4 separate regions of the Homo sapiens genome follow, and regions 1, 2 and 3 are each linked to region 4. Evidence: fine-mapped expression QTL. A gene starts in region 4. Each other region holds a variant in brackets. All regions are shown on one strand. Distances are from middle to middle. Region 1 overlaps LITAF (lipopolysaccharide induced TNF factor). Region 2 overlaps LITAF (lipopolysaccharide induced TNF factor). Region 3 has its middle 26 kb from the start of LITAF. Region 4 holds the start of LITAF (lipopolysaccharide induced TNF factor).

The links. PIP is the estimated chance that this variant, and not a neighbour inherited with it, causes the effect. A credible set is the group of variants that fine-mapping cannot tell apart.
Region 1: its variant is the best candidate, but not a certain one, in a credible set for the expression of LITAF in whole blood (TOPMed, PIP 0.79).
Region 2: its variant is the best candidate, but not a certain one, in a credible set for the expression of LITAF in whole blood (INTERVAL, PIP 0.60).
Region 3: its variant is the best candidate, but not a certain one, in a credible set for the expression of LITAF in whole blood (INTERVAL, PIP 0.74).

The regions. Positions count from the first base shown.
Region 1 is chr16:11,542,877-11,550,917 of GRCh38, reverse strand. It overlaps LITAF (lipopolysaccharide induced TNF factor), which reads left to right. Exons shown (of 4, transcript NM_001136472.2): 4 at 1,173-3,196. The coding sequence ends at 1,281. Among named protein-coding and RNA genes, the nearest start is that of LITAF, 40 kb to the left of the region's middle. RefSeq lists an enhancer at 6,549-7,364. The variant C/T (reference allele first, on the strand shown) is at 3,265.
Region 2 is chr16:11,551,778-11,559,818 of GRCh38, reverse strand. LITAF (lipopolysaccharide induced TNF factor) reads left to right here. Exons shown (of 4, transcript NM_001136472.2): 2 at 3,084-3,308; 3 at 6,130-6,286. The coding sequence starts at 3,089. Among named protein-coding and RNA genes, the nearest start is that of LITAF, 31 kb to the left of the region's middle. The variant G/A (reference allele first, on the strand shown) is at 4,791.
Region 3 is chr16:11,609,401-11,615,823 of GRCh38, reverse strand. It overlaps a transcript of LITAF not described here. Among named protein-coding and RNA genes, the nearest start is that of LITAF, 26 kb to the right of the region's middle. RefSeq lists a silencer at 641-814 and enhancers at 278-885, 886-1,493, 1,629-1,838, 1,737-2,031, 1,999-2,048. The variant G/A (reference allele first, on the strand shown) is at 2,047.
Region 4 is chr16:11,583,583-11,591,623 of GRCh38, reverse strand. It overlaps LITAF (lipopolysaccharide induced TNF factor), which reads left to right and starts at 4,705. Exons shown (of 4, transcript NM_001136472.2): 1 at 4,705-4,738. RefSeq lists silencers at 4,352-4,831, 4,862-4,941 and an enhancer at 5,842-5,951.

The sequences.
Region 1 (8,041 bases), 41 kb after region 4:
TTTACGGGAACACAGCCACGCCTGTTGGTTTTTGGATTCTCTGTGGCTGTCTTCTCATTCCAAGGGCAGAGTTGAGCAGTTGCAACAGAGACGCCATGGCTCATCAGGATGAAAGTATGTGGCCGGGTGTGTGGTGGCTTCCACCTGTAATCCCAGCAATTTGGGAGGCGGAGGTGGAAGGATCACTTGAGGCCAGCAGTTCAAGACCAGCCTGTGCAACATAGCAAGACCCCATCTCTACAAAAACAAACAAAACACAGCAACAAAAAGACTAAAAGATCTACTATCTGTCCCTTTGCAAAAAAAGTTCACCAAGCCCATCTAAGACTTTGAAAGACTCCCAAATGACCCCAGATTTGAAAATAATACTCAAAGGGGCTCTGTCTGTAGGAGGAGCCTTGGCATTGGCTGGCATGTTAATTTCCTAGGGGTGTCATCACAAATTACAACACACCTAGTGTTTAAAACAACAGATATTAACTCTCACAATTCTAGAGGCCAGAAGTGCAAAATCAAAATGTCAGCAGGGGCCGGGTGTGGTGGCTCTCGCCTGTAATCCCAGCACTTGGGGAGGCCAAGGCGGGTGGATCACTTGAGGTCAGGAGTTTGAGACCAGCCTGGCCAACACGGTGAAACCCCAACTCTCCTAATAATAAAAAAATTAGCTGGGCCTGGTGGCATGCGCCTGCAATCCCAGCTACTCAGGAGGCTGAGGCAGGAGAATTGCTTGAACCCAGGAGGAGGGAGAATTGCTTGAACCCTGGGCGACAGAGCGAGACTCCATCTCAAAAACAAAACAAAACAAAACCAAAAACTAAAATGTCAGCAGGGCCACGCTCCCTCCTAAGGCTTCAGGGAGAATCATTTTTTGCCTCCTCCAGCTTCTAGTAGGTCCAGGTGTCCTTGGCTTATGGCCTCATCACTCCAGCTTCTGCCTCTGTCTTCACATTTCCTTCTGCCCTCTCTGTATCTCTGTGTGTCCTCTCCTCTTCTTCTAAGGTCATTGGGTTTTAGGGGTCCGCCTGGATAATCCAAGATGATCCCATCTCAAAATTCCTAATTATACTGGCAAAGACCCTTTTTACAAAGAAGGACATGAACATGGTTTTGGCAGCCAGTGTTCACCCTGTTGTGATCAGTAACGCGCTCCGTGTGTCTCTCTCTCCTCCCAGGTGCATAGCGGGCTGCTGCTTCATCCCCTTCTGCGTGGATGCCCTGCAGGACGTGGACCATTACTGTCCCAACTGCAGAGCTCTCCTGGGCACCTACAAGCGTTTGTAGGACTCAGCCAGACGTGGAGGGAGCCGGGTGCCGCAGGAAGTCCTTTCCACCTCTCATCCAGCTTCACGCCTGGTGGAGGTTCTGCCCTGGTGGTCTCACCTCTCCAGGGGGCCCACCTTCATGTCTTCTTTTGGGGGGAATACGTCGCAAAACTAACAAATCTCCAAACCCCAGAAATTGCTGCTTGGAGTCGTGCATAGGACTTGCAAAGACATTCCCCTTGAGTGTCAGTTCCACGGTTTCCTGCCTCCCTGAGACCCTGAGTCCTGCCATCTAACTGTGATCATTGCCCTATCCGAATATCTTCCTGTGATCTGCCATCAGTGGCTCTTTTTTCCTGCTTCCATGGGCCTTTCTGGTGGCAGTCTCAAACTGAGAAGCCACAGTTGCCTTATTTTTGAGGCTGTTCTGCCCAGAGCTCGGCTGAACCAGCCTTTAGTGCCTACCATTATCTTATCCGTCTCTTCCCGTCCCTGATGACAAAGATCTTGCCTTACAGACTTTACAGGCTTGGCTTTGAGATTCTGTAACTGCAGACTTCATTAGCACACAGATTCACTTTAATTTCTTAATTTTTTTTTTAAATACAAGGAGGGGGCTATTAACACCCAGTACAGACATATCCACAAGGTCGTAAATGCATGCTAGAAAAATAGGGCTGGATCTTATCACTGCCCTGTCTCCCCTTGTTTCTCTGTGCCAGATCTTCAGTGCCCCTTTCCATACAGGGATTTTTTTCTCATAGAGTAATTATATGAACAGTTTTTATGACCTCCTTTTGGTCTGAAATACTTTTGAACAGAATTTCTTTTTTTTAAAAAAAAACAGAGATGGGGTCTTACTATGTTGCCCAGGCTGGTGTCGAACTCCTGGGCTCAAGCGATCCTTCTGCCTTGGCCTCCCGAAGTGCTGGGATTGCAGGCATAAGCTACCATGCTGGGCCTGAACATAATTTCAAGAGGAGGATTTATAAAACCATTTTCTGTAATCAAATGATTGGTGTCATTTTCCCATTTGCCAATGTAGTCTCACTTAAAAAAAAAAAAAAGAAAAAGAAATGGATAATTTCATCTACTGCCTTTACTTGGGGTTAATGTGATTCTTAAACACCTTCATCATGGAACTCTCAGAGTGGGGTCCGTTTTGGTTTCCTGGTGGTGGGTTTTGAAAGATAAGGGAAAGCACATTTTGAGCATGTCTGGGTACCATGGTGCGGATGCTTGGGAACCAGAACTGTTTCAGAGGAATCTAAAGTCTGATTTTAGTTTTCAGAGACACAGCTTGTTGTAAAACATGAGAAGACATGATTTCTAGGACTCAAGCAGCAAGCCAGGATTCTAGGTTGGCTGCTGTGTCATCTTTGAAGTCAAGACAAAGCTGGGCTCGACCTTCAAGGGTCCTCGTTTTGATAATACTTCAGAATAGGGAACTCATGTGAATACTACTATGTAGAAATAAAACCTAGACCTTGAGCGAACATCTGTATATTGGTTGAAAACGATAGTGGTAACCATTGATCCCCCTTCATTTGATGTTTGGAAAATTCCAGTAATTATCATTTTTGCAACGAATATGGATACCACATAGTACTTTGGTGTTACCTGCTTTTGAAAAATAAAGTCTTTGGTTCACCCGGTGAACTATTTATGAGTTCTTTTGGTGTGAAGAAAGGGCTCATGTTGCATTTCCAGCCATTGCTACAAAGAACCTTTATTTGTTCAGTAACGGTAGAAAATCCTTCCCGATTAAAAACTTCAGACTTGCTGAATATCCTGCAATGTCAAGATGACCGATGTTGAGTTGGGTGGATTTGCTAACGAGTCAGATTTGAACATGAGGCTATTGGAACCCAATAGGCGTCATTGATGGCGGCAAGCCATAGCTTTCAAGTTTTAATAAAATGCACAAAAGAGAACTGTCCCCATTCATTCTCTGAACAAAACATGCTTTGTGAGATGCTAAAAGGAGGGTATTGTAACATGT[C/T]AGGAATATGGATGCCGCCTTCCCCCGTCCTTTGCTACCTGATGATACAGCTTCATTTTGCTAGATGCAAGGAAATAATGTCATCTTGGTGTGGCTTAATTGTCATTTAAACCCTAAATTACAGTCTTGAAAAACTGCTGCTTTCCAGATCTTGATTGTGTAGTTTCGGGGCCATGCATATTTAGCAGTTTGGCTCAGATGGTGGCATGTACATGATCTCAAGCTATTATTAATTACATATGCAAAGTCTTCAAAACAAGAGCCCTATTTCAGGATCGTAAAAACATGTCTTATGCGGAACTTTCATGTCAGATGCCTGGAGTGTGAAGTGTTCATTGGACATTCCATTTTACTGTTCGAAGTATGGACTTACATATCAAATTAAAAGGCTCTTTTGTTCTGCCACTGTTTGGTGGGGACTTGAGAGTCTCTTGCAAACACTGGTTCACATTCAATTAATGAAAGGGCTTTATACCTACCTACTTGGACCGCAAAGAGGAATTTTACCAATCTGAAACCAAAAGTGACTGTATATCTTATATTCTGTTATGTCCATCTAGGCGAGGTGGCCTTCTAAGAAGTGTTGGTTTGTGGCTTAACAAAATCATTCAGCTACTGCATCTCTTGAAGCCAGACTTAAGCATATGATGGATTCTTTGCTGACCACAGTGTTACCCGTGAAAATGTTTTCTCTGGGACAACTGACTTCCCAGTTGCTAACGAGAACCCTTCTGTTGGATACTGAACTATTTATAAACATGGCTTCATATATGCACACCATTTGGCCTCAGTTTTCTCCCCAGTGAGAGCCTGTCGTGTTTGGGATGTTAAAAATCCTTCTCTGACTTTCTGGGCTCAAGATTTCTGTTAGGAGTAAATCTAGACGTTGGAATTTTACTTGCAGAATTCTGATTTGCCTTTTGGTTCCTTGGTCCTCTCCTCCCTGTATGACTCAAATGTTTACAGTGAGTCGCCTGTTTTTTTGCAGGCACATGAGTGAATTGGAAGTAGATCTAGCAAGGGCCATGAAAGAGACATCAAGAATAGTTTTGCTTTTTATTTTTTTGAGAGGGAGCCTCGCTATGTCGCCCAGACTAGAGTGCAATGGCATGATCTCAGCTCACTGCAGCCTCCACCTCCTGGGTTCAAGCGATTCTCCTGCCTCAGCCTCCCGAGTAGCTGGGATTACAGGTGCCTGCCACCGTGCTCAGCTAATTTTTGTATATTTAGTAGAGATGAGGTTTTGCCATGTTAACAAGGCTGGTCTTGAACTCCTGACCTGCCCACTTCGGCCTCCCAAAGTCCTGGGATTACTACAGGCATGAGCCACTGTGCCTGGCCTTTTTTTTTTTTTTTAATCTAAGAATTTTAAATAAGATTCTGGAGCTCAGATTAAAATGAATAAATAAATAAATAAATAGCTCACCACCACGTATAGAGTCTACTGCATGTAACTCACCACCTTGTAACTGATCTCTGCAGTATTAAAAAGATGTTCTCCCAATTAAATACCTTTTCTCCTTTTCTTTCCCTTTCTGTTCCTTTTTTTTTTTTTTTTTTTTTTTTTTTGAGATGGAGTCTCGCTCTGTTGCCCAGGCTGGAGTGCAGTGGCACAATCTTGGCTCACTACAACCTCCTCCTCCAGGGCTCAAGTGATTCTCCTGCCTCAGCCTCCTGAGTAGCTGGGACTACAGGTGCGCTCCCTCACGCCAGGCTAATTTTTGTATTTTTAGTAGAGACAGGGTTTCGCCGTGTTGGCCAGGCTGGTCTCAAGCCTCTGACCTCAAGTGATCCGCCTGCCTCGGCCTCCCAAAGTGCTAGGATTACAGATGTGAGCCACTGTGCCTGGCCTCAGCATTTAAGTATTCTTAAAGCTCTTAGTACTGCAGCGCCTCTTAAGTGATCTTGGCCGGTTTCCCAAATGGGCAAAATCAACTTAATGGGTTCATCAAAAGTCACAGTGCATTACTCATAATAGATCTGAGTATTATTTGTAAAACTTGGATATATAGATGTGTGTGTTTGGGGGAGGGGTCACGGTGTAAAGTAAGTGTGAAGGGTAACATCTGGAAGCCTCTGGTTGGTGTCTGTGGATTTGACATTGTTTATCATTGATTAACTCCTGCTGTGTTGCAGCCATTGTACAATTGGGGTAGAAAACACGACCCTGCCTAGGAAGAGTGAACAGTGGGCTTAGCGCTGCCCTGCCAACATTTCTGCCCCCTTCCTCTTCTCTCCTTCCTTCTTTCCATCTAAAATTCACCTAATGTTAAAGTACATAATTAGGTGGCTTTGAGTACATTCACAGTGCTATGTAACCATCACTTCTACCTGGTTCCAAAACATTTTCATCAGCCCAAAATAATACCCCAAACCCATTAGCAGTCACTCCCCATTCCCTCCTCTCCACAACCCCTGGCACCCGTCAGTCTGCATTCTGTCTATGGATTTACCTATAGTGGGTATACTATATCCATGGAATCATAGAATATGTGATCTTTGCATCTGGCGTCTTTTGCTGAGCATCACATTTTCAAAGTTCATCCACATGGTAGCATGGACCAGTGGTTCATTCCTTTTTGTGGGTGAATCATACTCCGTTGTGTGGATAGACCACGATTGGTTAATCCACTCATCCCTCGATGAACGTCTGTGGTTTCTACCTTTTGGCTATTGTGAATAATGCCGCGGAGAACATTTGTTTACAGGCTTCTGTGTGGACATATGTTTTCAGTTCCCTTGGGTGTATACCTAGGAATGCAATTGCTGGGTTATAGGGTAATTCTACCTGTATGGTTCATTCATTCATTCATTCATTCATTCATTTATTGAGACCAAGTCTCACTCTTGTCACCCAGGCTGGAGTGCAGTGGCATGATCTCGGCTCACTGCAACCTCCACCTCTCGGGTTCAAGCGATTCTCCTGCCTCAGCCTCCTGAGTAGCTGGGACTACAAGTGCATGTCACCACGCCTGGCTTATTTTTTGTAGAGACAGTGTCTCACTGTGTTGCTCAGGCTGGTCTCGGAAGTCCTGGGTTCAAGCCATCCGCTTGCCTCAGCCTCCTGCGTAGCTGGGATTACAGGCACACGCCACTACACTCAGCTAATTTTTAAATTTTGTGTAGAGTTGGGGTCTTCTATATTGCCCAGACTGGTCTCAAACTCCTGGGCTTAAGTGATCCTCCTGCCTTGGCCTCCCAAAGTGCTGGGATTACAGGCGTGAGCCACTGTGCTTGGCCTTCCCATTTTCACTGAAGGTTTTCTTTGTGGTTACATTGGTTTGCCTTTCCCTGCATTAGTTGTTTGTCTAACTTAATGGCCTCCTCATTTTATGTTCTGCCTGCCTTCTGTCTTAAAGTCTTAAATCCGTTCAGGCCTTTATCAGTGAGCAGATAGTGTCCACATGTGTATATGTGAGGGGGTGGTCTGGGTGTCTCTATAGGTGTGTGTGTGTGTGTGTGTTGGGGGCTGTGTATGGGGGGATATGTAGGAGTGTGTCTGTGTATGTGTGGGTGTGTCTGTGGGTGTTTGTTGGAGGGCCTAGGTGTCTGTCATGTGTGTGAGCTGGGCTCCGGGTGTCTCCGTAGCTGTCTATGAGTGTCTGGCCCCGTGTGAGCGTGCATCCACATGTGTATGTGTCTCTGGGTGCATGGAGCGTAAGGGGAAGGGGCCAAGCTGCCCGGAGCTGCACTGGCCTGGAAGCCTTCAGTCCTCCTGGAGTCCTGCAAGGACTTTCAGGCCAACGACCCCCAGGGGGAAGACAAATGACTGTTGCCTCACTGATCTCAGGGACTAAAGGGTAGGAATGATTGTTCCTTCCATTGTTATGCAGTGTGGAGGGGACCATGCCTGGCCTCCCGACCTTGTCAATCACGGCTATGTCCAGCTGCTGGTGGATGATTCCAGATGGGAAAGATTCTTACTGAATCCTGTACGACAGGGCCAGGGCCACTGTCCTCAGACCCCACGCTGCACCTTAGAATCCCCTGGGGGAGGCTGGATGCGGTGGCTTCATGCCTTTTGGGGAGGCTAAGGCAGGAGGATTGCTGGAGCCCAGGAATTAAAGACCAGCCTGGGCAACATAGTGAGACCTTGTCTCTACAAAATTAAAAATTAAGTTTGAGCGTGGTGGCTCATGCCTGTAATCCCAACACTTTGGGAGGCCAAGGCGGATAGATCACCTGCAGTCGGGAGTTTGAGATCAGCCTGAGCAACATGGAGAAATCCCGTCTCTACTAAAAACACAAAATTAGCCGGGCATGGTGGTGCATGCCTGTAATCCCAGCTACTCGGGAGGCTGAGGCAGGAGAATCGCTTGAACCCGGGAGGCGGAGGTTGTGGTGAGCTAAGATCACGCCATCGCACTCCAGCCTGGGCAACAAGAGCGAAACTCTGTCTCAAAATAAATAAATAAATAAATAAAATTAGTTGGGTGTGGTGGTGTGTGCCTGTGGTCCCAGCTGCTCTGGAGGCTGAGGCAGGGGCATGGCTTGAGCCCAGGAGTTCAAGGCTGCACTGAGCCGTGATCGCACCACTGCACTCTAGTCTGAGCAACAGAGTGAGGCCCTTGCTCTAAAAAAAAAAACAATGAAAAAACAATCCCCCGGGGGAACATTTAAAAGGCTCCATGCCCATGCCATGCCCCAGATCAACTGGATTAGGAACTCTCAAGATGCCACCAGGCATCAGTGCCGACCTATCCCTGGGCACAGCCATACTGGGGCCACAGAAAGTCTTTAATTTTATCATTTTTTTCCATAAGAGGGAAAAATGCCT
Region 2 (8,041 bases), 32 kb after region 4:
CTCCCTATGTTGCTCAGGCTGATCTAGAATGCCTGGGCTCAAGCCATCCTCCTGCCTCAGCCTCCCAAAGTGCTGGGATGACAGGTGTAAGCCACCATGCCCGGCCTAGTAGCCACATTTTGAAAGGTACAAAGAAACAGGTGAAATTAACAATACATTTTACTTAACTTCATATATCTAAGCTGTGGTCATTTTAATATATCAATATAAGAAATTATTAATGAGATATTTTACATTCATTTTTTCCTACTAAGTTTTGAAACCCAGGGTGTATTTTTACATTGACATTCTATCCCAAATTGAATGCTAAATTTTTATCAAAAAACATTTTGATCTATATTCAGTGTTCATCAAATTTACCATTGAAAAAATGATTCATATATTCAAGTTGTCCCAGACTTACATAAAAGCTTCCCAATAATTGAATTGTTAGTTTTCACATTTAAATTGCTTAAACTTAAATACAAGTAAAAATTCATTGGCAAGTAAAAAGATGAAAAAGAAGCTAAAACAAAAAAAATTCAGTTCTTCACTCACACTAGCTCATTTCTTTTTTTCTTTTAGACATAGAGTGTCGCTCTGTCACCCAGGCTAGAGTGCAGTGGCATGATCATGGCTCACTGTAGCCTCCACCTGCTAGGCTCAAGTGATCCTCCTACCTCAGCCTCCTGGGTAGCTGGGACCAGAAGTGTGCAACACCATGCCTGGCTAATTTTTTTAATTTTTAAAATTTTGTAGAGAGAGGGTATCACTATGTTGTCTAGGCTGGTCTTGAACTCCTGGGCTCAAGTAATCCCACTGCCTCGACCTCCCAAAGTGCTGGGATTGCAGTCATGAGCCCCCGTGCCCGGCCACAAGCCACATTTTAGACGCCCAATAACCTTACGTGACTGGTGGCTGCTATATTGGGCAGCAGATACAGAGCATTTCCATCCTCACAGAAGATTCTGTTGGACAGCACTCTGATAGAAAGAAGTCTTGAACACGTGTTCTCCAAGGGACTTTCAAAGTTTTCTAGAATGCAGCCCCAACCTATCTTTACTTACTGACTTTCTTTTTATCACGTTCACTCCCCCGCCTCTATTCCACTTTGTTTCGTTTGTTTGTTTTTGAGACAGAGTCTCGCTCTGTTTCCCAGGCTGGAGTGCAGTGGAGTGATCATGGCTCACTGCAGCCTCAACCTCCTAGGATTAAGCAATCCTCCTGCCTCAGCCTCCTAAGTAGCTGGGATTACAGGTGTGTGCCACTACACCTGGCTACTTTTTTTATTCGTTGTAGAGACAGGGTCTCACTATGTTGCCCAGGCTGGTGGTGAATTCCTGGGCTCAAGTGATCCTCCTGCCTCAACCTCCCAAAGTACTGGGATTACAGGCATGAGCCACTGCACCCAGCCCTTTTGTTTTGTTTTGTTTTAGAGATGGGGGTCTCACCATGTTGCCCAGGTTAGTCTTGAGATCCTGGGCTCAGGCTATCCTGCCACCTCGGCTCCACAGAGTGCTGGGATTACAGGTGAGCCACCGCACCTGGTCTCTGTTTCCACTTTGAGGTGAATACCCTTTCTTCGGTTCCTCCAGAGAAGTCTCCTCTTTGGGGCTTGGTTTAGAGGCAGGGCTTCTGAGAAGGACTCTACCCTTCTCCCTGCAGTGGGATTAATTGCTGCCTTGGCTTCCCACGAGTTCTAGAAAATGAGGCAGACAGTGTCGGGAGAGGGGAGTGGTGGTTGTGGCTCGCTGCCCCGGAGCCTCATTTCCCATTTCTCCCGAGACAGGTTTGAATGGCTCTTCTAAGGCAGCCTGAACCCTGCCCAGTTAGAAAAACAGCCACACAAAGAACAGCACTGTGTCTGCTTCCAGCTGCCCCATGGCTGCTGGATCATGGAACATCAGACAGGAGCACACTCTGGGTGCAGGGTGTAATTCTAGGCGAGCAGCAGCTCTGCCAGGGCTGGAGGGAAATCCTTTCTTTGCCCTCACAAAAGAAAATGTGTGCCTGGCTGCTCTGGTGCTCATTTTTCAAAATGAGAACTGGAGTCTATGTGTATTTCCTTCTTAAAAAGCTATAACACAGAGGCTGGGCGCGGTGGCTCATGCCTTTAATCCCAGCACATTGGGAAGCCAAGGCGGGAGGTTCACTTGCCCCCAGGAGTACAAGACCAGCCTAGATAGCAAAGTGAGACCCCCATCTCTACAAAAAATGAAAACATTAGCCGGGCGGGGGGGCACATGCCTGTAGTCCCAGCTACCTGGGAGGCTGAGGCAGGAAGATCACCTGAGCCTGGGTGGTGGAGGCTGCAGTGAGCTGAGATCACACCACTGCACTGTAGCCTGGGTGACAGATCTTGTCTCAAAAAAATAAAACAAAACAAAAAACAAAACTATAACACACATACAAAAAAGTATATACATTTTAATTGTACAACTGAGATTTTTACAGACTGAACATACCTCTGTAACCAGCCCCCAGGTGAAGAAAGAGAACAGGACCCGCCCCCCGCAAAGGCCCCCTCATACCCCTTTCCAGATTCTTCTTCCTCTTCCAAGAGTAACCGCTCCATGGATTCATTTTGCCTATTTCTGACCTTTATTTAAATAGCATCATACAGTGTGCATTTTGTGGCATCTGGCCCCTTTGCTATTTGTGATAATTTGTGGTTGGTTTTTGAATGCCTTTATCTTTTCCGTTACCTGAAACAGTTAGTGAAAACCACAGTGGTTTAAAAACCAAAAAAACCACAAAAAAACAAACAAAAAAAAACAACGAAGAAGAAACACCAGATATGGAAGGTACGTAGGTCATTGTCTGGTAATGGTTTAAGATGTGAAGAAGAAATGACCCTTATTTGGTTGATGTTTCCACTTTGGATTTTCCAGGTTTTGGTGATTTTGGGTAGTAATTATTTACTTTTTGATTAATTCTGGGGTCTTGAAGGGACATTAACCCTCTTCCTAGCTTTTGGACAAAGCTGGATGGAAGTCATTTTCTCAGAATTTCTGTTTGCCAGAAAGAAAATTGAAGACTTAGGTGAAAAAGAGAGGGAGAGATCAACTGAATTTCTTATCTGGTATGTTCTGTTTCTGTTTTAGGTAAAATGTCGGTTCCAGGACCTTACCAGGCGGCCACTGGGCCTTCCTCAGCACCATCCGCACCTCCATCCTATGAAGAGACAGTGGCTGTTAACAGTTATTACCCCACACCTCCAGCTCCCATGCCTGGGCCAACTACGGGGCTTGTGACGGGGCCTGATGGGAAGGGCATGAATCCTCCTTCGTATTATACCCAGCCAGCGCCCATCCCCAATAACAATCCAAGTACGTGTGGCCTCCCAGGCCCCCCTTACCATTCCTTGGCCCTCCACCCTGGGAATCAGGAGAGTGACCGAAGTGACTCTGCCAAAGAGTCTAAGTGAAGTGCCAGTACGTTCCAGTTTTACCCCCTTACCTTGAAATTCCACACGCAGTCTTTTAGATTCCATGTTGGTGAGGCTCACAGCTTTTCCGTAATAAAGTATGGTTTAGGATCTTTCCCATGGTCATCATATACGAATCTTTTGGCACATCTCTTGGAGGCACAACCAACTTTCTTCTGAGAATGGGAGTTTGTGTCTTAAGGGCCCGCACACTTCCTCCTGAGGTCTGATGCAGAACTTCTGCCCTGAGGCCAGGGCCGAGGTAGGAATAGGGAGGAGAAGAAACCGTCCTGAGCAATGTGTGATTGTGTTTTCATACCAGCTCACCCTCAATGCAAGTTGCTCTTCTGCTTTTGAGCAACTAGATGGTCCCTGTCCTTTGGTGCTTCCTTCCGCCCAAGGGTGCCCTGGTATGTCACTGCTTTAGTATCACAGGTAGTTCTGAAAGAAATCTTTAGCTCAGAGAGGGGGCCCGTGAATCAGACTGCCTGGGTTCACATAACCTCCTTGTGCCTCAGCTTCCCCATTTGTAAAATAGGTTTCATCAAGTACCTATTTATAAATATCAGTGAGTTGTTAACATGAGAGGAAGTTGTGTGTGCCAAATACAGAGTACTCGTTTGATAAAAGTGAACTCTTATTGTTGTGTTCAAGTTATTTTGAGCTGGAAGAGGATGAGATAATGACTTTAGATTCTTAGACCATCCTGTGATCAATAAATAGTTTCTTTTTCTTTTTCTTTTTTTTTTTTTTTGAGACAGGGTCTCACCATGTTGCCCAGGTTGGAGTGCAGTGGTGCAGTCATGGCTCGCTATAGCCTGGACCTCCTGGGCTCAAGTGATCCTCCCACTTCAGTCTCTGGAATAGCTGAGACTACAGGCATACAGCACCACACCTGGCTAATTTTTAAATTTTTGTGTAAATCGGGTCTCACTGTTTTTCCAGGCTGATCTTTAACTCCTGAGCTCAAACGATCTTCCCACCTCCCTTGGCCTCCCAAAGTGTTAGAATTATCAGCATGAGTCACAGAGCCTGGTCCAAATAACTTATTCTTGAACCCCAAAAACACTTAATAAAATGTATGAACAGGGTGTGGTGGCTTGCGCCTGTAATCCTAGCTACTGAGGAGGCTGAGGCAGGAGGATCACCTGAGGCCAGGAGTTCCAAACCAGCCTGAGTGACATAGTGAGACATTGTCTCTATGAAAATAAAATTAGCTGAGTGTGATGGCTTGTACCTGTAGTCCCAGCTACTTGGGAGGCTGAGGTGGGAGGATTGCTTAAGCCCAGGAGGTTGAGGCTGCAGTGAGCTATGATTGTACCCCTGCACTCCAGCCTGGGCAACACAACAAGACCTTGTCCCCCCTGCCAAAAAAAAATTACAC[G/A]TAAGTGCTAAAGTATGATTTAATACTACTTTTCTGGAAGGAGGGTCTTTCTATGAGTATTACTAAGTTCAGTTAACTCTAGGCAGTAATTTCCCCCTAATTCATTTGTTATATAAATGACATTCTAACGTAAAAAGGAACAGAAGGAAGTTGCTTTAACAAAAATATGAGCTTAACAACTGAAGTGCTTGATGATTTTCATCACCCTGGGTTCTCTCTTTTTTTTTTTTTTTTTTTTTTTGAGGTAGAGTCTTGTTCTGTTGCCCAGGCTGGAGTGCAGTGGCATAATCTCGGCTCACTGCAACCTCTGCCTCCCAAGTTCAAGCAATTCTCCTGCCTCAGCCTCCCAAGTAGCTGGGACTACAGGCACGTGCCATCATGCCCGGCTAATTTTTGTCTTTAGAAACAGGGTTTCACCATGTTGGCCAGGCTGGTCTTGAACTCCTGACCTCTGGTGATCCACGCACCTCGGCCTCCCAAAGCCAAGGGATTTGCTGGGATTACAGGTGTGAGCCACCGTGCCCGGCCTGGATTCTCTTCTGATTCTTGAGAATGTTCGAACATGTTTTCACATAGCTTTTTCTTCCTAGCATTATTTTATATTTTCATTTCTTGTATCAACACAGTTCACTAGCTTGTTGTCTTACAGAGTTGGCCTGCGTTTCCTGGCTTGGTAAACTCTACCCTTATCATTGGCTGTCAGAGTTTATCAAAGGGTTTGTGTAAAGAGAGTGGATTATTTATCAAGAGCTGCTAGGCACAGTGTGAGGCTGGTTAAAATTTATTTATTTGTTTTTGGGACTGAGCGTCGCTCTGTTGTCCAGGCTGGAGAGCAGTGGCGCAATCATGATTCACTGCATCCTCAATCTCTCAGACTCAACTGATCCTCCCACCTCAGCCTCCTGAGTAGCTGGGACTACAGGCGTGTACTCCCACGCTGGGCTAATTTTTATATTTTTTTGTAGAGATGAGGTCTTGTCATGTTGCCTAGGCTGATCTCAAACTCCTAGGCTCAAGCAGTCCTCCCACCTCGGCCTCCCAAAGTGTTGGGATTACAGGCATGAGCTACCGCGCCCGGTCCTCCTTTCTTTTTGAGGCTGAATCATATTCTGGTGGATGGATAAACTTCGCTGTGTTAGTTTATTGGTCCGTCGATGGACACTGGTGTTCCTTCCCCTTTTGGCTCTCATAGATAGCCAGACGATGAACGCATGCTATGAACACAAATGTACAAATATAATATTTGCTGGCATCCCTGCGTTCCTCTCTTTGTCCTGTAGTGAATGCTATTGGCCTTGTTTCCTGAGCAACCTGTGTTTGTCCCTCTCCCTTTCATCAGTTACCGTGCAGACGGTCTACGTGCAGCACCCCATCACCTTTTTGGACCGCCCTATCCAAATGTGTTGTCCTTCCTGCAACAAGATGATCGTGAGTCAGCTGTCCTATAACGCCGGTGCTCTGACCTGGCTGTCCTGCGGGAGCCTGTGCCTGCTGGGGTGAGTCTGCCTCCCACTTGGCCCCAAGCCATCCTGCCCTTCTCTCTGGGTGCTGGCGGGGGTGGGTTCTCAACTGCACCATGCTTGACATTCAGGGCCAGACATTTGTGTTGTTTTTTTTTGAGATGGAATCTGGTTCTGTCGCCCAGGCTGGAGTACAGTGGGGCGATCTCGGCTCACTGTAACCCCCACTGCTCAGGTTCAAACGATTCTCCTGCCTTAGCGTCCCGTGTAGCTGGGATTATAGGGGTGCACAACCACGCCCAGCTTATTTTTAGTAGAGCTGGCATTTCACCATCTTGGCCAGGCTGGTCTCAAACTCCTGACCTCAGGTGATCTGCCCACCTTGGCCTCCCAAACTGCTGGGGTTACAGGTGTGAGCCACTGTGCCTGGCCTAAGGCATTTCTTTCTTTTTTTGTGATGGATTCTCACTCTGTTGCCCAGGCTGGAGTGCAGTAGCACGATCCCGGCTCACTGCAACCTCCGCCTCCCAGGTTCAAGCTATTCTCCTGCCTCAGCCTCCTGAGTAGCTGGGATTACAGGTGTGCACCGTCAGGCCCGGCTAATATTTTGTACTTTTAGTAGAGATAGGGTCTCACCATGTTGGCCAGGCTGGTCTCGAACTCCTGACCTCAGGTGGTCCACCCGCCTCAGCCTCCCAAAGTGCTGGGATTACAGGTGTGGGCCATCATGCCTGGCCCAAGACATTTCTTTATTGTAGGGGGTGTCCTGTGCATTGTAGGATATTGAATAGCATCCCTGGCCCCCACCCGCTTAATGCTAGGAGCACCACGCTCCCCAGTGTTCTGAACAAAAATGCCCCCTGGGAGGCCAAGTCATCCCTGCTGCTCTTAAGCGTATCCGTCCCCAGAAATTGGTCTTCCGTCTTTTCTTCTTGCTTATCTGCTGAAACCACGCCCTGCATGTAGGGACAAGCTTCACAGCTGCTTCCAGCTGTGTACAGGGCAATATCCTCAGGGATTCCTTTTTCTTCTAGAATTTCATGACCTAAATAATAATGTTTTGCTCGAGCCCGAGGGAAGCTTTAAAGAATCTGTACATTAAAATTCTTCATAGGAATTGCTTCAAAACTTCTTATCCTTTTATGACCCGAAGTATTTTTCCCATTGCCCATGCAGGGAAATTATATAAATTTTATGTCTGCACCAAAGGTATTATGTTTAAAGAGATAACAGTTTCTGTTCTGGGAGAAAAATCTGAGGAAACACAATCAATTTTTTGTTTCCCACCAAGCAGGTAAAAGTAGCTTCCTTATACCTGGCCACGTGAGCCACTCAGAAAACCCCAAGGGGCTCCATTCTTTTCCTTGAAGGAAACGGTGTTTGTGAGTTTCAGGAGCCTCATGCAACCGGCACGTTCCTCCACATTGTCCTTTGGTGACTTGAGGTTGAGAAGGAACAATATTTCTCTTCCTAACTTCAATAAGAGGCTCAGAGTCCCAGAGAGTTTAGTTAACTTCCTTGAGGTCATGTGTTAAATAAGGAAGGAAGGAGACAAAACAGCTTTCTGGGCACCTGATTCCCCCTCTTGCCCACAGGACTCTGCTGTTGTTTTCATTCTGTGGGCAGAAAATGCTTAAAAAAAAAAAAAGTCCATTGCCTCTGGATATTTGTATTAAAACAAATTTTTTATCTTTGGAATCAGGGAAAGATGGAATAGAAACTTGTTTTGTTTTGTTTGAGGCTGAGTCTTGCTCTGTTGTCCAGGCAGGAGTGCAGTGGTACGATCGTAGC
Region 3 (6,423 bases), 25 kb before region 4:
ATACTCTAATCACTGAGGAGGGTCCAAGGGCTTTGGCAGCTCTGTGCCAGGAACCAGTGACAGGGAACAAAGACCAAGCAGATACTTTTTATTATACCACATAGGTCTTCACTTTTCTTTTTTTATTATTTTATTTTAGTTATTTATTTATTTTTAAAGACATAGTCTCACTCTGTCTCCCAGGCTGGAGTGCAGTGGTGCAATCTCGGTTCACTGCAACCTCCACCTCCTGAGTAGCTGGGATTACAGGCATGCACCACCACACCTGGCTATTTATTTATTTATTGAGACGGAGTTTCACTCTTTTTGCCCCGGCTGCAGTGCAATGGTGTGATCTCGGCTCACCGCAACCTCCACCTCCCAGGTTCAAGCGATTCTCCTGCCTCAGCCTCCTGAGTAGGTGGGATTACAGGCATGCACCACCATGCCAGGCTAATTTTTGTATTTTTAGTAGAGACGGGGTTTCGCCATGTTGACCAGGCTGGTCTTGAACTCCTGACCTCAGGTGATCCACCTGCCTCAGCCTCCCAAGGTGCTGGGATTACAGGCGTGAGCCACCGCACCCAAGGTCTTTACTTTTCCTCTGAGTTGTTGCCCATGCCATTTACACCCCAGGGTAGATGGGGCTCTGGGTGTCGCTTTTCTTCCTGGGATCTCTGTTCTTTCCTCAGCCACTGTCCCCTGGGACTTTCCTGCCTCGTTTTCTCCTAGAGCCCCAGCTTGGTCTCTCCTTCCTTCCTTTGTTCATTCATTCATTCTCCCAGTGTGTACCGACTGGTCATCCACCCCGTGCCAGCTGCTGGGCTGGGTGCTGGAGAAGCAGCTGTGAGTGAGGCACTCAGACCCGGCCCCATCTGACAGCGGGCCACAGGGTCCTGGAAGCCATGCATTCGCTGTCATGACAATCACTGAACTGACTCCCTGCCGTTAGAACTGCCTGCCGTCTAGAACAGAGCTGGTCCAGCTGCAGGGTAATGCATGCCACTGGGCAAGTTTAAATTTTCTAGTAGGCATATCAGAGGAAGTAAGAAGATATTTGTAACAGCTGAAAGGTGAAAACAGTCCGGGCACACTGATTCATACTTGTGATTCCAGCACTCTGGAAGGCCAAGATGGGAGGATCTCGAGCCCTGGAGGTGGAGGTTGCAGTGAGCTGAAGTTGTGCCATTGCATTCCAGTCTGGGTGACAGAGTAAGACCCCATCTTAAAAAAAAACCAGAAAAAGCCTGGGCACAGTGGCTCATGCCTGTAATCCCAGCACTTTGGGAGGCCAAGGCAGGCAGGTCACTTGAGGTCAGGAGTTCGAGACCAGCCTGGCCAACATGGTGAAACCCCATCTCTACTAAAAATACAAAAATTAGCCGGGCCTGGTGGTGTGTGCCTATAATCCCAGCTACTTGGGAGGCTGAGGCAGGAAAATTGCTTGAACCTGGGAGGTGGAGGTTGCAGTGAGCCAAGATTGTGCCACTGCACTCCAGCCTGGGTGACAGAGTGAGACTCTGTCTCAAGAAAAAAAAAAAAAAAAGAAAAGAAAAAGAAAGAAGAGGAAAGAAGAAGGAGAAGGAGAAGGAGAAGGCCTCCAGAAGGACCAGCCCGCTGACATCTTGATTTCAGACTTCTAGCCTCCAGAACTGTGACAATCAGTTTCTGTTGTTTTAAGCCACCTAGTTTGTGGTCATTTGTCACAGCATCCGTAGGAGGGAGAAAGGAGAGTGAGAGAGACTAGGACATCCTTCTGAGCCTGCACAAGCCTCAGCTGCCCCGTCTGTACAATGGGCACAACGGCTCCACTGTTGACTGGTGTTGCTGGGAATGAATGAGTCATGTGCAAGTGTCCAAATCTCAGGACCTGCCAGGAAGCAGAGGGACCCCACAGAACACAGGCGTTGATCTCAACTGTCAGTTCCGTTTTAGAGATAAGGAAATAAACATTCAGCGAGAGAAGTGGCCCGCCCGGTCATCTGACAACATGTGGCAGGGTGAGGCCGGCTCTCGGAGTACAGATCCTCATTTCTGAGATGTCCTTTCTGTCTGGGCTTTGCCCCA[G/A]CCACCTCTGTGCCCTCGGTTCCACCAGTGTGAACTGCCTAGCCGGCACACGCCACACCCTCCGTCCGGCTGTGCTCCCTGTAAGGACACCTTTCCTGCTCCTCTCCCACCTAACTCTGGCTTAGCCTTCAACAAGAGCCACTTCCTCCTGGAAGCCTTCCCTGACTGCCCTCACCCTCTGGGAGCTTTCATAGGAGCCCAGTTTGAATCAGCAGGGGCCCCACCCTCCAGGAGTTGTCCGTTCTAGGGAAGATTGTGAATCACCGATGTCTTCGAGGTGGGGCAGGTCTAAACAGGCGGAACAACACACTCTGGCACCTCAGACCCAGCTGTGTCTGAATTGCCCAGATGGTCAGGAGAAGGCAGCCCTGGGACCTGGCAGCTGGCTGCATTGCTTATTCCCCCAGGTGACCCAGGAGGTCTGGTCTCTCTGTCAATGCGAGTGTCCCGTCTCTCTCCATCCCATGGGGATCCAGAAGTGGAAACAAAAACTAGAGTGATCTTGAGGTCAGGCGTTCGAGACCAGCCTGGTCAACATGGTGAAACCCCATCTCTACTAAAAATACAAAAACTAGCCAGGCGTGGTGGTAGGTGCCTGTAGTCCCAGCTACTCGGGAGGATGAGGCAGGAGAATCGCTTGAACCCAGGAGATGGAGGTTACAGTGAGTCGACATTGTACCACTGCACTCCAGCCTGGGCAACAGAGCGAAACTCCATCTAAAACAAACCCCAAAAAACAAATAAAAAAAAATCCAAAGAAAAACCTAGAGTGAAGCACCTGAATGGCTGGCCTTGCCCATCAAGAGGCACCCAGGCCATCGGCTGTGCCCCAAGATGACAGCTTTTGCAGGGTTGGGAGGTCAAGATTCTAGGGGGACACAGGGTTCCCACAAGTCTTCAGGAGCCATGGGAGTCCCTGAGATGGTGCCCAAGAGCTTCTGGTGTAACCAAGCTTGGTTCCACAGTGAAATCATTCCCCAAGAGGGCGGACTCATCCTCCAAACATCTCTTTTCAGTCTGTCCTCGTCCCTCCGCCCTTCTCAAGGACGTGGACAAACAGAGATGTCAGGGGAGAATGGGGTGGGGAAGTGGGTGGCCAGTTCTGGGCTGGGAGTGGGGTGGGAAGGTCTGCTGTCTCTGCGAGGGCTCCTGCCTGGGCCTTGTTAACTTTCCATCCAGGTTCTCTGTGCACGTGAGCGTCCTGAGCTGGGCCGGCCCTGGCCGCCCGCTGGCCGCATGCAGTGCAGTTTGCTCTAACCGCAGGTGACCCACACGAGGTCAGACAGCCGTTCCCACAGAAACCTGCTGGGAGTTGCCCAATAAGGCCCTTCCTTCCTCATTCTTCACCTGCCTTCCAGAGAGCCCAGGCCAAGCCAGGGAGGGAGACACCTCTTCACCAACCCTCCAGGCTGCCCCCCAGGTGGCCCCTTTTCACAAGAATGATGAGGACGGTGCAGCCAAAGCCTGCTGCGGCTCCCAGGAGTCACAGAGTCCCTGGGCTGGGAAATGACCTGGTCTGACTCACTGGAGAGACCCCCGTTTTAGATCTGGGCTGAGCAAACCTGGCACATGGTTGGCTGTCCTGAGCTTTGGCGGTGTGGGCAGTGCCAGGAGATCCTTGGACTTTGAGACCCTGTTTCCACCCTCTCAGTGACATGGCTGTGTGGGCACCCACATAACCCTCTTTGCCAGGCGAGTGGTGATTTCCGAGCCCCGAGGGGAAGAAGGAAGAAGGAAGCCATTAAGTTGCGTTGGATGGGGGTTGTTGTCACACTCCATATCCTGTGGGACCCCACAACAGTCGAAATGGGAGGGCCAGGCGCAGCGGCTCACACCTGTCATCCCAGCACTTTGGGAGGCCGAGGTGGGCGAATCACCTGAGGTCAGGAGTTTGAGACCAGCCTGGACAACATGGTGAAACCCTGTTTCTACTAAAAATACAAAAAAACTATCCAGGCATGGTGGCGCACACCTGTAATCCCAGCTACTCAGGAGGCTGAGGCAGGAGAATCACTTGAACCCGAGAGGTGGAGATTGCAGTGAGGCGAGATCGCACCACTGCACTCCAGCCTGGGTGACAGAGGGAGACTCTGTCTTAAAAAAAAAAAAAAGAAAAAGAAAAAGAAAAGAAAGAAAGAAAAAAAAGATAGAAAAATGCTTGGAGGAAATTTGCTCCCAATTGGCTGCAATTTAGTAGCCATTTCCAGGCAATAGTAGGTGGTAAAAAGTATTGTTATAGGGATGTCCTCTAGGGGAAAGGCTGCTAGATTTAGTAAATAAAAATGCAGGATGCCTGGTTAAATTCAAATGTCAGAGAAACAACAAATGATTTTTTAGTATAAGTATATCCCATGCTGTATTTAGGACTTGCTAAAAAAGTATTCACTGTTTCTCTGACATTTGAGTTTAACTGGGCATCCTATATATATGTTTTGCAGACAGGGTCTCGTTCTGTTGCCCAGGCTGGAGTGTAGGGGGGTGATCGTGGCTCATTGCAGCCTCGAACTCCTGGGCTCAATTCATCCTCCCAGCTCAGCCTCCCGAGTTGCTGGGACTACAGGCTTGTGCCACCACGCCTGGCTAATTAAAAATTTTTTTTTTTGTCTCACTATTTTTGCCTAGGCTGGTCTTGAACTCCTGGCCTCAAGTGATCCTCCTGCTTCAGCCTCCCAAAGTGCTGAGACATGAGCCACCATGCCTAGCCATGTACTGTATTTTTTTCTGGAAACCGTATCTGGGAGGTAGGACGACTCATAGATTTTTAGGCGCCTTCTCCTTGACTTTTCCTCCCTCCTCCTACCCCTTAGATTTCGGTAGCTGGGGGAGAGGGGTCCTAAGTGTTTCAATTAGGACTGACACTGTCGTGAGGTCTTGTTCCGTCTTCCATGTACAAATTGGCCACTGATTCACATTTCCCCAGCCCCACCCAAGAGTGAAGGCTTGCTCCCATGAGCCAGCTGGTCCCCCTTCTGGTACATTACAGGTTGCCTTGAATGGTTGTCTGAGTTGTACAAAGCATGACTCCATACTTGAGAAGAGTGCCCCCTGCATTTGTGCAGTGCGCAACCTGCACAACCCAACACAGCAACCCTGTTTCCACTTCTAGATTATGACCACTGGGCGATGGTTTTTTTCCTCTTATTTACTGCTCAAGTTGGGCTCCATCCCATTGTTCCCTTGCTCGGGGGAAAACCTGAGCACTCTGGGAAGGCACTGTGGCAATGTCTGAAGACAACTGAGCTGCCAAGCCATGTGCACAGAGCTTTTGATTCTCAAGCCATCCTGATATCTGCTGGAGGGACTCTCCACTCCCTTCCCACTGCCCAGCGTGCAGGCTGGGGCTTGAAGGACCAGAATAAAGATTTCCTGCCTGCCCGACCGCCACGTCCTTTCCCGATCCTCACCCCCACCAACCCTCCAACCTAGGCATAATTTTAGAAACTTAATAGACCCCTTGCCGGACATTCTTGGCCTGGAGCCTGCGGGGGCAGGTCCTGAAAGAAGACAGACATTTCTTTCTTAGGGATTGCCGATAGAGATCCCCTGTTTTCCCCTGGGACAGGTTTCTGAGGGGCCATTGTGTGCGGAGGAGCTGCTCACACACTTGCTTCTTTATGGGGTCCCCCCACCACCCAGTCCTCCTGGGCTGGATTATTTTGCAGGGTGAGTCCCAGCTTCTCTGTGCTTCCCTGAGGCCCCCCAAAGCCATCAGGAGCAGTGGGGACTAGGGTGGGGAGGATTGAAGGCTGCAGAGATTGGTGGCCATAGGGAATCCTTTGCAAATCATTGGGGTCATTTGGTGCCTTGAAACTGTAAATGACAGGCGGGGACCTCTGGGCCTGGAGAGAGAAGGTGGGGTGTGATTTCAGCATCCAGGCCTTGGACGACAGTGAAAATTTGTTTCCATCACTGGCCAGGAAAGCCTGGTCTTTTCCGTTTGGATTTCAAGGAATTGCCCCATTCCTGCAGCAGACATTCTGGAGGCTTCTGGAGTGTGAGGGAGAAGTGGGCAGGAAGGAGGCATGCCAGGGACAAATGTTTACGGTCCCTTGAACAGCAGGCATCTCTCAACCGTAGCAGATGGGGGCCTCTGAGGCTCTGGGAGGTGAAGTAACTTGCTCACGGTCACGCAGCCGGGAAGTGGCACAGCCAGTCCTGCAGCCTGAATCCTTTGCTCCCTTTATCCCTTTTTCTTTTTTCCAAGAGTGTTTTGGATACGTAATTTACATACCGGACAATTCACCCATTTAAAGCATACCATTCAGGCCGGGCACGGTGGCTCACGCCTGTAATTCCAGCGCTTTGGGAGGCCGAGACGGGTGGATCACTTGAGGTCAGGAGTTCAAGACCAGCCTGGCCAACATGGTGAAACCTCAT
Region 4 (8,041 bases):
GGCATTCATTGATCATAGATATATGGTTTATATGTAGACTCCCAATTTTATTTCATTGATTTATATGTCTATTCTTATGCCAGAACCACATGCTTTGATTACTGTATCTCTGTAGTAAGTTTTAAAATCAGAACGTGTGGGCCAGGTGCAGTGGCTCATACCTGTAATCCCAGCACTTTGGGAGGTGGAGGTGGGAGGACTACTTGAGCCCAGGAGTTCAATACCAGCCTGGGCAACATAGTGAGACCACATCTATACAAAAAATTTAAAAATTAGCTAGGCATGGTGGTGCGCACCTGTAGTCCCAGCCACTCTGGAGGCTGAGGTGGGAGGGATCGCTTGAGCCCAGGAGTTTGAGGCTGCAGTGAGCTATGATGGCACTACTACATCCCAGAATGGGCAACAGAATAAGACTCTGTCTCAAAAACAAAGTGTAAAAAACAGAAACAGTGGATCCTCCAACTTTGTTATTTTTCAAGATTGTTTTGGCTATTTGAAATCCCTTGTAATTCCATATTAATTTTAGGATCAGCTTGTCTATTTTTGCCAAAAAAGGCAGCTGGAATTTTGATAGAGATTACATTGGACCTGGGCCGGGCACGGTGGCTCACACTTGAAAGCCCAGCAATTTGGAAGGCCGAGGCAGGTGGATCACTTGAGTCCAGGAGTTCGAGACCAGCCTGGCCAACACGATGAAACTCTGTCTCTACTAAAAATACAAAAATTAGCCAGGCTTGGTGGTGCACACCTGTAGTCCCAGCTACTCGAGAGGCTGAGGCAGGAGAATCGCTTGAAACCAGGAGGCAGAGTTTGCGGTGAGCCGAGATCGTACCACTGCACTCCAGCCTGGGCAACAGAACGAGACTCTATCTCAAAAACACAAAACAACAACAACAAAAACAGAGATTACATTGGACCCGTACATCAGTTTGGGAAGTATTGCCATTTGTGATCATTACTTTTACACATCAACGTGGCTAGCCTATAGTACCCAGTTATTCAATTAAACACCAATCTAGATGTTGCTGTAAAAGTATTTTGCAGATGTGGTTTATTTTAGTTGACTTCAGGTAAAGGAGACGGTCTCCTTTACTTAATTCAATACTTTATCACAAAGTATTGAATATCTCATGTAATTTACTGAATACTATACTAAAAGTTAAAAACAGAATGGTTGTAAGGGTACTTGAAGTACGGTTTCTTTTGAATGTGTATCACCATCATAAAGTCAAAAAATCATAATTGAACCATCATTAAGTCTGGTACCATCTATATATGTATATATCTCCTCTCTCTTTCTTTGAAAGATTTCTGACTGATATACCACTTTAACTATATTAAATCTTCTGGTCCATGAATGTCTTTCCATTTATTTAGTTTTCTTTAATTTCTTTCAGCAATGTTTTGTAGTTTTCAGTGTATAGGTCTTGTTTGAACTTCCTTAGTTAAGCGTTTTCCTAAGTATTACATTCTCTCTCTCTCTTTTTTTTTTTTTTAGAGATGGGGTCTCGCTATGTTGCCCAGGCTAGATTCAAACTCTCATGCTCAAGGGGATCCTTCTGCCTCAGCCTCTTGAGTAGCTGGGACTACAGGTGTGTGCCACCATACCCAGCTTCTATCCTTTTGAGGCTATTGTAAATGGAGCCATTTTCTTAATTTCATTTTTGGATTGCTCATTGCTAGTATATAGAAATGCAACTGGCTGGGTGTGGTGCCTCACACCTGTAATCCCAGCACTTTGGGAGGCCCAGGCAGGTGGATGGCTTGAGCCCAGGAGTTTGAGACCAGTCTGGGCAACATAGCAAAGCCCTATCTCTACAAAAAATTACAAAAAAAAACTAGCTGGGCACAGTGGTACATGCCTGTAGTCCCAGCTACTGAGGAGGCTGAGGTGGGAGGATCGCCTGAGCTCAGGAGGTCAAGGCTGCAGTGAGCTGTGATCGAGCCACTGTACTGCAGCCTGGGTGACAGAGACCCTGTCTCGAAAAAAAAAAAAAAAAAAAAGCAACTGATTTTTGTATGTTAATCTTAAATCCCACAACTTTGCTGAACTGGTTTATTAGCTCTAATAGGTATTTAGTACATTCTTTAGGGTTCTTACATATAGGATCATATCACCTGTGAATAGAGATAGCTTCACTTTATCCTTTTCAATCTGGATGCTTTTATTTTTCTTGCCTAATGGCAATGGCCAGAACCTCCAGGACAATGTTGGACAGAGGTGGCCAGAGTGGGCACTTTGGCTTGTTCCTGTTCTTAGGGGTAAAACTTCCAGTCTTTTACCATTAAGTGTGTCATTAGCTCTGGGATTTTCATAGAAGCCCTAAGGTTGAGGAAGTTCCCTTCTATTTCTAGTTTATTATTATTTTTTTAATCATGAAAGCATTATTGGATTTCTTCAAATGCTTTTTCCGTCTATTGAGATGATCACGTGGCCCAGTTTACTTTTACCCCCTGGTTGGAAGCCTTGGGTTGGAAATTCAATCTCTGTGGTTTTTTGGGGATCAAAGAAAAGAGTTACAGTCTTATAGCTCTCCCCATAAATAATTGCAAGCTCACAGCCGTGGTAAGTGTTTAGGATGGATAAAAACACAAAGCTGGCTCCTGTTGCTGCTCAGCAGTTGGGGAAAGAAAAACAAATGAAGATGTGGTAGTATTCAGTAAAGGACAGAAGAAAATTCAGGCTTACTACTGCTTTTTACAGGAAGGAAGGGAGGAAGCGAGGAAGGGAGGAAAGGAGGAAGGGAGGAAGGAAGGAAGGAAGGAAGGAGAAAAGGTTGGGAGGGAGGGAGAGACAGAAAGGAAGGAAGGAAGAAAAGCATTCATACAGGGATGTTTCTTGAACGTTATCTCTGAGAGATTTTCCCTAGGTGTTATGTCTCCCTAGCAATGGTCTGTGATATTCTGTCTTAATGTCAGTATAATAATTGGTACCTTTGCAAGCCTTGGTTGCATCCTGAGAATGGAGGAATGGCAGAGGTTGGGTGTAATCCAATTTCCTGTTCTTCTCTTCTCCCTCCCTCCCTCCCTTCCTTCTTTCCTTCTCTTTCTTTTCCCTTTCTTTCTTTCTCTTTCTTTCTTCTTTTTCTTTCTTTTTTTTTTCTTTCTCTTTTCCCTCTTTCCCTCTTTCTTTCTTTGTTGCTTGCTTGCTACAGTGCAGTGGCTCGATTATAGCTCACTACAGCCTCAACCTCCGGAGGTCAAGGAATCCTCCCACCTCAGCCTCCTGAGTAGCTGGCACATGCCACCACTCCACCGCTTTATTATTATTCTTTTAATTAAAAAAATTTTTATAGAGATGGAGTCTCACTATGTTGTCCAGCCTGGCCTTGAACTCCTGGGCTCAAGAGATCCTCTGGCCATGGCCTCCCAAAGTCCTGAGACTATAGGCAAGAGCCACTGCACCCGCCCCCTTCATATTTTAAAAGCAGTAAAATGTTGCCCACACTAATAACATCTACATGGGAACCTCCTATGCTTGGGAGAACTTTGAAATCCCTTCCAACTTGGTAACTCGTCCACGGCTGAGGGTGGCCCGTCAGTGGACATGGCGCAAGGTGGCAAGAACTTGGGGCTGGGGACACTTTGCTGAGGGACCCGGGACAAGCCACACTCCCTATCTGGGCCTCACTATCTTTAGGACCTCGGGTAAAGGCATGGGATTTGGGCACCGGAGGGTTCTAAGATCCAGGTCTTTGCCAGCATGGGGCTCGGAAGCTCCCTGTCCAAATGGCGTTTGTTTGTGGATGGCCACATCATGGTTCTGCCCATCTCCTGACTCTGTGTACTCTGAAAGCCAGGCATGCTTCTTAATTCCCTCTAATGATTTCCCAGAGAGCCTGCTGGATCCAGGCTGCTGCTGTTATCACTGCAGCCGGCCGATGGGGCTCCAAGCAGACGGGCAGATGGCACCCATTTAGGGGCGGATGTGAAATGGGGCTACTGATTTCCAGAGCTTGCTTTCAGTGATGGCTGAGAAAGGCCTACCTGGCGGCACGGACCACCCTGGGGGCACAAAGCGGACAGGCAGCTGATAAGCCTTACCTAATACCTATCCTGTGCTAAAAACTTTACCATCTTCCCAGTTCACTCCCAGTCGGTCTTAGGAGACAGGACCGCTATTGTGCCCATTTTGCAGACAGGAAGCCGAGCTCAGAGAGGATGGGTAACATGCCCGAAGGCACAGAGAGTGTCTTGGTCTGTCCGGACGCGTCTGTAGAGTTACAGGAAGAGAAGGGCCGCCCTCCAGAGGGCCGGGAGCGCCCCAGCGCGGGTCCGGGGTCGAGGTTGGTGGTCCCGCCGCCTGGAAGTGGTGGAGCGGCGCGGGGAGGGGGGAAAGTGGGGAGAGCCGCGAGCGGCAAATCAGGAGGGAGGGCCAGGCTGTCGGGGGCGGACGGGTGGGGCTGGCACCGAGAGGCAGGGGCAGGATAGGAGAGTGGGGGAGACACCAGGTCCGCGCCAGGCGTCTCGGGGGTAAGCCTGGGAAGCTCTGGGGTGGCGAGCGAGCCGGGTGTGGGATGGAGCCTGGGGGCGATCAGAGTGAGGCGGGGAACCGGCGGTGGTCTCGCCTGGGGCCCAGGTGCGGGCCGCGGGGGCGGGAGAAGCCGGAAGCCCAAGCCGGCCGCGCTCCGCCCCGGCGGGTCCAGCCCCCGCCCCCGTCCCCGCCGCCCGGCCCTTTTCTCGGGGCGCCCGAGAGGCCAGCTCAGACCTCCCGGCTCGACAGGCGGCGCGGGCGGCGGTGAGTGCGGCGCGGGGACGCCGGGGCGCGGGGACCAGCGGGAGACAGCGGGGGGCCGGTGGCGCCAGCACCTGCTGGGGGCCCCGGGCACTGAGCCCTTGGCTGGGGCCTCCTGGGATGCCAGGGGGCGCGGGTCGGGTCGCGGGCATCGAGGCGCGGCGGAGGGCGTGGGGGCCCGGCCGGGGCGGGGTCCGGCCTCCCAGCGCTGGTCCCGGCCGCGTCTCCGGTTGGGTTCAGCTCCTGCGTCCCAGAGTGGCCCGATCGCGCGTGGCGGGGTCGTCCGGCCCCCACCCGAACGAGCGCCCTTCGCGGCCCGCCGCGTCCCCCTCCCCGGAGAGGACGGCCCCTGGGCTTTTTAGAAAAAGGCGCGATTCTCTCTAGTGACTCAGGTTGAGATTTCCAGAAATATCCCCCGGGGGTTCAGAAACAAAACCAAAACAAACAAAAAAACCCCAACGAATTCCCAAATGCTATTTGCCAAACATTTGACTTCTAGGGGCGCGGGTACCCGCGTTTCTCTCCCTGCCCCCGCGACTTCGCGCAAGATCCGGGAAGGACACCCGAGGCCCCTGGGAGACCCTGGGGAGGTGAAAATCAGAGAGCGAAGCGGGCCGTGGCCCCTAGGCCTGACCCCTCCCCGCGGGGTAAGGCGGGCACCCCGCGAGCGCAGGGGTCCTCTTACTGCTGATGGCACCCAGCTCTGGGCCCAGACGCCGCTCACCGTCCACCGCCGGTGCTGGGTAGGTGCTGGTGGGACCAGCTGGTGACTGGTGGCAGAAGTGGATCTCGCCCCTCCCTGCCAAGCTAGGCAAATACCCTCCCCGCTCTGGTTTGCAGGTCACTGTGGATAGGTGGTCAGTTGGTGGTGTGCCCGAAGCTCTTCGGGGTCAGGGAGAGGAGGTGATAGGGGAAAGGTGTATGTTCTGGAAGGGCCAGTCATGCTTCAGGGACCAGGCTAGTTGGACCTTCACTGGTTTTCTACTTCCCGACAGTGGAGCTGATGTCACTGGCTGTTGGACTGAGCAGTGGTCACTGGGAAATCTACAGTTTGTGGAAGCCACGGGGTCTTCCAAGCTCCTACCAGTCTTCCCAAAGAGGATGCCTCCCTCCCCTTGGCCTGGTGCACTGGTGCTGGTTCAAAGACTGTCTGAAGCCCAGCTTGGGGTCCTCTTTAGGAAAGCCATGATTTGCCTTAATGTGTGCTTGGCTGCTTCATCTGCCCTCTCACCCCCTGCCTTCTCAGAGTGACTCTTTTTAGGACTTCCTATTTAGGACTAACCCAGATGCCTACAGAGAGAAGTGCAGGCTGGTATCTGGAATTCCACCAGTGTTTTGGTTTTATCAGTTGGAGCAGGATCTAGATGGCGTGTGACTTGCTTTACCTGGCATAGAGTAACACCCATATTGCACTTGGCTTTCTTCTCCACCAGCCCTTGCTCTGGGAACTAAATGTGCACCAAACTCTCTAAGAAACATTTAATTGTAATCTACCATGAGGGAGGCCCATCTCCCTCTTTCCTGTTACTTTAAGGCATGAATAATTGATGCATTTATTCACATTTGAGAAAGTATCTTGTAATGTTTTCACAGATTAAGTGACTGGGTGATTGATCTAAGACGTAGGATCAATTTCTTTCTTTTTTTTTTTTTTTTTTGAGACAGAGTCTCACTGTCGCCTAGGCTGGAGTGCAGTGGTGCGATCTCGGCTCACTGCAACCTCTAACCCTCCCCACCCCACCTCAACCCCCTGCCTGAGTTCAAGCAATTCTAGTGTCTCAACCTCCCAAGTAGCGGGGATTACAGTTGGGTGCCACCATGCTTAGGTAATTTTTGCATTTTTAGTAGAGACAGAGTTTTGCCATGTTGGCCAGGCTGTTTTCGAACTTCTGACCTCTAGTGATCCACCTGCCTTGGCCTCCCAAAATGCTGGGATTACAGGTGTGAACTACCTCACCCGGCCCATTTCTTAAGTCTCTAAAATAGTAGATTGAAGTGTAATTCACTGTCTTTGGGGAATACATTTCCCTTTGTTACTTCCGTTCCTTTTATGGGCGGGCTGTTGAGAAATAAAGCGCTACCCTTGCCGTGTAAAGGATGCAGAAGAATGGCTCCTGGTCCTGAGGGGTTTACGCAATGGGTAGAAAGTAGAAACACACACCGGCGAAAAAGCTGGTGCTTGCTAATGCCCTTGTAACTCCAGAAAGGGCTTGAGAACAGTGGAAAGGAGGCAGCTAAGTTAGAGAAAGTTTCATGGAAAAACTGAGGCCTGAGCACATGTGGCAGAAGGAACATGAGGACATAGTTCAGACAAACAGGAGGGTCTCAGTAGAGCTGTGGAAGAGGTACAGACAAGCCCAGGTGGTTGAAGACAGTAAATGGAAAATCCACTGAGAGGAAGGAGCTGGAAGGCGTTTCCAGCCCAAGTTAATTTTCAAGAAAATAAACAGTGCATATTTTGCTGACATTACCCATCCTCACTGCTCAGAGGTGTATAATAGCACTTTGAGAATGGGCTGGTGCCGTTTTGTGACTTAAACTTCTCCCACTGAATAGGAATTTCCCCAGAGCTACAGTGAGGGTGGAAAAAAGAGGATCTGCAAGAGGAAGTCCTGTATTCTTGGCACTGTGACTTGTCCTCTATTTGTTTTCGCTTTTACAGCAGTGAAAATAGCCCCGTGGGTGAGGCGGTCTATCAGGTAAATAGACTTCCTTAGTTCTGTGTTTCTTTAGCACACATATTTTTGACGTCTCCCGGGTCTGTTTGGCCACCCATGGTCTGTTCTGAATTTGATTGATGTTTACTTGCCTAAGAATTGTTATTTGAGGTCAAGTGGCATTTTCCAGGGTCCTCATAATTTCATCTTGTTGTTTGAGCCTGTATTGATTGACACTCTGGACACAGGTGACAACAGCTTTGTAGCTAATGAAGTTGTCCCTTGGCTGCAGGTTATTTCAGTAGAAGAATTGTGTAATTTCATAGAGCTTAAGGCATGGACACAAGAAAGGAACCATTCTGGAGGGTGTCTATGTGATGGTAATTCTCTGCTCACCTCGCAGTAGGTAGGAGTTTATATACCAGGATCCAAAGCTGGAGGCTTCAGAGAAAATAATGTTGGAGAATTTAAGCTATTTAGCTCATGGAGCCTTAGATTTAATTGACAGTGTGCCTCAGGTAAGTTTAAGAGCTTAATGATGTCTTGCCTTAAACTTGAATCCATGAGGTTATTCCTAGATGATGCACTGATAGTTTGAAATTTTTTATTAAAAAATATTAAAGTGTGGAAGATAAAGAAGAAAGGCATA